Linked DNA regions of Homo sapiens: region 1 is linked to region 2. Evidence: fine-mapped expression QTL. A gene starts in region 2. The other region holds a variant in brackets. All regions are shown on one strand. Distances are between the middles of the regions.

Region 1 (2,922 bases), 65 kb after region 2:
ATAAAAATAAAACTACTCTTAAACACGTTACAGGTAAAAGGCAAAGAGGATCTTGAAATCAACCAAATATAAAGATTACGTACAAAGGAATGGCAATTAGGCTGGAAGAAAATACATCAACAGCAATAACAGAAGTGGGATGGCAGTGGAATAATCTTCAAAATGATAAGAGAAAATAGCTGTTAATCTAGATTTTGATATCCAGCTAAACTATCATTCATGGATGCAAAAAACAAAAAGCTTATTTTCAGGCAACTAAAGATTTACTACTCAAGGTTCTTGGTGAAGAAGCTACTGAGATGTATTTCAGGAAGAGAGAAATCATACCCAGAAGGAAAGCTTAGGATCCAAGGAAGAATGTGAGTAAAGAGAAGGGTAAACTTGTGAGTATATCCAGCCGGGCACAGTAGCTCATGCCTGTAATCCTAGCACTTTGGGAGGCCGAGGTGGGCAGATTATGTGAGGTCAGGAGTTCAAGACCAGCTTGGCCAACATGGAAAAGCCCATCTCTACTAAAAATACAAAAATTAGCCAGACGTGGTGGCACACACCTGTAGTACCAGCTACTTGAGAGGCTGAGGCAGGAGAACTGCTTGAACCCAGGAGGCGAAGGCTGCAGTGAGCCAAGATCGTGCCACTGCACTCAAGCCCAGGCAACAGAGTGAGACTTTTGTCTCAAAAAAAAAAAGAAAGAAAGAAAGAAAAAAAGCAAAAACAAAAACATGTGAGTATATCTAAACAGGCATGAGTTACATAAATAACAACAATAATCAGTAAAGAGGGGTAGTATGAAAGCAAAATGAAACAAAATTCTGGCAGCATTTTCATGTAAGATAGTTACAGTGTTAACATGTTCTCAAATCTATATACTATTTGTAAGGAAAGTAGAGATAATGACTAACTTTAGACTTTATTAAGTCAAGTATTTATATTAAAATGTTAAGGGTAACTATTGAAATGATAGAAATAAATGTAAAATTGACGAATCAGTAGGAAAGAAGAAAGAGAATAAAGAAATCTTGCTCAATCCAATAGAATACAAGGGAGAAGCAAGCAGCAGCAGCAGCAGCAGCAGCAGCAGTAGTAATGAACAAGAGTGGTAAATGCAAGGCCCCAAAACGATGGGGGAAAATTATTGTTAACATCATTGAGAGTGATAAAGGCATTGTGATTAAGAAAATGACTGTATTTTTGAGATATTAAAGAATGATGGTGAAATAACAGGATATCTTGGATTTGCTTTAACATACTTTAGAAAAAAGAAAACAAACAAAGTATAGTTCAAGCCTGGAAAACTTTTGATTTCCACGTGTTAACAGCTATTTTCTCTTAGCACTTTGAAGATTATTCCACTGCATACCCACTTCTATTATTGCTGT[C/T]GATATATTTGCTTTCAGCCTAACTGCCATTCCTTTGCTTGTAATCTTCTTCGGCTGATTTCAAAGAAATCAACCTTTGCCTTTTACCTGTAATGTATCTAAGAGTAGATTTATTTTTATTCACCTTGTTTAGAACAACAACTGTTGTATCTGGGGAGTAAATACATGAATGTTTATTGTATTAACTTTCTACTGTCATATTTATTTGAAAGTTTTTGTAATCAATTTTATTTCTTTTATTTTTAGTGGACAAGTAATAATGATACATACTTATAGAATACAGAATGATTTTCTAATACATGTATACAGTGTGTAGTGGCCAAATCAGAATTGTAATAAGATTTTTAATAAACAGATTAAGATGGTCAATAGATTCTATAGCCACCCAAGCTTTCATTTTCAGACATATAAGGCCTAAAAAATTTGCCTCTCATGCTTTCTTTCTCAAGAAACTATTTGGGGATATGTTCTATCAAACAAGGAGTAACCTAAGAAAGAGAAAGATGAGACCTGAGATTTGGGAATCAGAACTCCAACCGTGGAGAGAGTGGAAGAAATTCCAGACCAACAGCTAATCATCAAGCCTGGGGCATAACATGCTCCCAAAATGAAATGGACAGACTATCTGATGTGTGTAGTTGTACTCAGGGGAATTTTCAGATCTGGTAGAGAATTTTAGGGATGATTTAGTGATAGGTACCTAGAAAGTGAAGCAAATGAAAAACCGAAGCAATTATTAAGTCCAGGTAAAACAAAAAGTTGTAGGAGAAAGAACACATAATCACAATTCATGTGGAAAACCATTTATAATGTTTACATGGTTATACTAATGTAATACTGAATATTTATTTAACCAGAATGAGTGAAATCAATACATTGGAAGGATGAAATGAAGAACTTTGGAGGTGTGTGTGTGGGATGGGTGGTATAAAAAAGTGAAATCTATATTCCTAAATCCTTATGAGTCAATAAGTAATATCTAAAACTGGAAAAAATATAAGAAGGTGCTTTAGACATATGAAGGTGATTACCAGAAGAAACAGCTAAAAGCAAAAGTAGAGTATTTGTGTCTGGGGAGTAGTTAGCATGAAGGGGACCAGTGGGGCTTATAGTTTTTCTGAGGTCGTGGGAGACAATTAACAAGGGCCATAATAAGTAAGTAAATTAGATAATATGTTAGAAGTTGGCAAATGCTATGGAAAAAATAATAGAAGAAGGTAAGGGGTTGGTAAATATGTGATGGAGAGGGAGTTGCAATTTTAAATAGGTTGTTGTGGTACATCTCCTTGAGAAGGTGCCATCTGGGCAAAGACTTGAGAGAAGTGAGAGAGTTAGCTCCTGGAGTAGGGTGGGGAAGGTGAGGAGGTAGCTTCCAGCCAGAGGCAGTAGCCAGTGAAAAGGCCCTAAGGCATGGTATGCTCAAGAAACAATCAGGAGGCCAGTGAGCTGAACAGGAGTAGTACATGAGATCAAAGAGGTGATGAGATAAGAAGGGAGGCAAAGATGACATAGATCTCTAAAGCCACTGTAGTTTTGAGTTTGC
Region 2 (2,903 bases):
TTCTTTCTGGATTTTTCACTTTTGCTCTATTATTTTTTTCCATAAAGAATGTACGCTCACCGTTTTGAGTACTGGCATGTCCAAAGAAATCTTTTATTTTGCTCTCATACATGAAATGCTTTGACTGGTTGTAGAATCCCAGATTTGAAATAATTTTCTATAGAATTTGAAGGCATTATCCTAGCATCATTTCTAGCAACCATCATTTCTAGCCACCTGTGTTAGAGACGAAACACTTGATACCTATTCTTTCTTTTTCTTCTTATTCTTTGAATTAAGAAATTCCACCAGAATAGGTATAAAGTTGGCCCTTCCTATCCGTGGATTCTACATCCTTGGATGCGATGACACACAAATAAAAAATATTCAGGAAAAAAATTCCACAAAGCTCCAAAAAGCAAAACTTGAATTTGTTGCACCCTGAGTGCTATGTTGAATCCATGCGAATGAAGCGATGAGTAGGCATGGTTAGACATTGTATTAGGTATTGTATTAGGCATTGTATTAGGTATTATATTAGGTATTAGGTGTTGTATTATGTATTGTATTATGTATTGCATTAGGCACTGTATTAGGCACTATATTAGGTATTGTATTAGGCATTGTATTAGGTATTGTAGCAATCTAGAGATGACGTAAAGTATGCCTATCTAGGGATGTGCGTAGGTTATATACAAATGCTACACCACTTTATATGAGACTTGAGAATCTGCAGATTTCAGTATCTGAGGGGGATCCTGGAGCTAATCACTCTATGGATTATATGCATAATCCACAGGGAGGACTATATGTAAGGAATGGGGGTGTGTGTTAATTTCAGGTGGGTCGTTAATCTAAAGACTTGAGTCTTTGGCTCAAGTTATCTCTCTCTCACTTTCACAATTGTTTTGCCATTCTCTCTCTTTTTTTCTTTCCTTCTGGAAGTCCTACTTGACAAATATTAAATCTTCTGGAGCTATCCCCTCAGATTTAATTTTTCTCCCATATTTTCCATCTCCTAGTGGATGCAGAGTGACTTCTGGAGTGTTTGCCTGAAGGCGTTCTACTCACACACCTGCCCTCACAGAGTGCCCCATCGGGCGCCCCACGCAGAAATAAGCCAGTTGTGGTAACAGACCTATACAAACTCTGGAGGAAACTCATTGTAGCTTACAGAAACAATCAACTTGGCTTCCTGATTTTTAACCCTCAATTTCGCCTGCGACTGCGAGGTCCTGGAGGCATCGCCCAGCCCAACCCCACTGTACAGCCGGGAAGTCTGAGAGCCGGGGTACAGCGCGACCCGAGATGATCCCGCCCGCGGGAGGGCTCGGACTAGACGCAGGTCTCCTGACTCCCAGCTCGGGGCTTTGGCCGCTGTCTTCTGCTTGGTGCCCCGCGTCTTCGCGGTAGGTTGAGGTGGCCGGAGCATCTGGCCCTACCCTTCCCACACGCCACACTCCTGGGTCTCTGGCTCTGGGGTCCGCAGAATTTGCGCCTGCGCTAAGCCTTTGGCCAGGCTGCTCAGTGGCGGAACCAGCCCTCTTTGCCCTGGCAACGCGTCACTTGTTGTCATGGAGACCGCGTTGTTTACCTCTCTGTTCTGCAAGAGCTGGAAGCTCCAGTTGGGGTAAGGAGGCTCCCATCCCGAGCTTGCGTAGTGGTTCTGTGTGGCGCTGAGGTAAGTAAACCATGACCCCACCCCACCGACCCCTACCCGCAACCCTCCCCGCCTAACCAAATCCTTATGACGTTGGGATGAGCCCTAATTTAGGTCCCCACCTCTCTGGGGGCTATTCAGACTTATCCAGGAGCCTTGGGTTAAATGCTGGGCTCCACACTCAGATAAATTCGGTAGAAGCCATAAAAGGGACTGGGCTAGGAAGAAACGGAGAAACTCCATGTTGTCTGAGGGGGCTGGGTGGGCTGAGGTTCTCAGCCTAGTCAAGATCTGACTCTAGTTTCATCCTTATATATGTGAAGGCTTCAGAGATCCAGAGGCCCCTAAGAGCAGGGACTCAGACCTTAGGGTAGAGATGGGAGTGGGGGCAGATTTCAGCCCTGTCTGAGGAAGGCAGTTCTCATGGTCCATCAGAGTTGTATGAAGATGAAATGGGTAATTTTAGCGTTTCCACTGCCGACAGCCTCTGCCAGCTGGCTTCCCCTGTGTTGTTCCCCTTCCTGTTCTCTCCTTTTCTTTGTCCTGGAAGTTTTCAGATTCTTTTATGTGTTGAACAAGTTCAATACCCAGTTGTCAGTTTACACATGTTACATTTCCTCCTCCTCCTCCTCCTCCTCCTCCTTCTTCTTCCTCTTCTTTTTCTTCTTCTTTTTTTAAGAAAACATCTCTGGGCTCATCTGTTTGGCAGAACATTACTCCATGACCCAACAATTCTAATGAGTTATAAAAATGCATACACGTGTTCACCAAAAGACATGTATGAGACTATTAATAGCATTCTCATTATGGCCCTGGAGTGTAAACAACCCAAATATCCATAAACAGTAGAAAAGACAGCTAGATTTTATTCATATAACGGCACCTACACAGCAACGAGAACGAACAAACTGCAATCATATAGACAATATGGATGAATTTTACAAACATAATGTTGAGCTAAAGAAGTCAGAGACAGAATAATACATACTGTATTATTCCATTTATGTTAAATTCAAAAACAGCAAAACGAATTTGTAGTGTTAAAAGTCAGGATACTGGTTACCCTGAGGGGCTTGAGGTGGAGTAACTGGGAGGAGGTTAGAGATGCTGGTAATGCTTGTTTCTTGGTTTGGGTGCCGGCTACACAGATAGATTTATTTTGTGTACAGATTATGATTTATGCAATTTTCCGTATATATGTCATCCTTGAATAAAAATTATCATAAAAAAGGACAAATTGCTTTCATTTAATCTAAAAGAGTCT

Direction of the effects. Alleles are on the strand shown, and positions count from the first base shown. SD is a standard deviation of normalised expression in the study named.
For the expression in monocytes after R848 of the gene that starts at base 1,580 in region 2, C is the low allele of the variant in region 1 and T is the other (large effect, 0.78 SD a copy in Quach 2016).

Evidence for each region. PIP is the estimated chance that this variant, and not a neighbour inherited with it, causes the effect. A credible set is the group of variants that fine-mapping cannot tell apart.
Region 1: its variant is the best candidate, but not a certain one, in a credible set for the expression of TEKT1 in monocytes after R848 (Quach 2016, PIP 0.82).

The regions. Positions count from the first base shown.
Region 1 is chr17:6,765,896-6,768,817 of GRCh38, reverse strand. All of the region lies in intron 5 of XAF1 (XIAP associated factor 1), which reads right to left. Among named protein-coding and RNA genes, the nearest start is that of FBXO39, 8.9 kb to the left of the region's middle. The variant C/T (reference allele first, on the strand shown) is at 1,380.
Region 2 is chr17:6,830,406-6,833,308 of GRCh38, reverse strand. TEKT1 (tektin 1) reads left to right here and starts at 1,580. Exons shown (of 8, transcript NM_053285.2): 1 at 1,580-1,660. RefSeq lists a silencer at 1,568-1,617.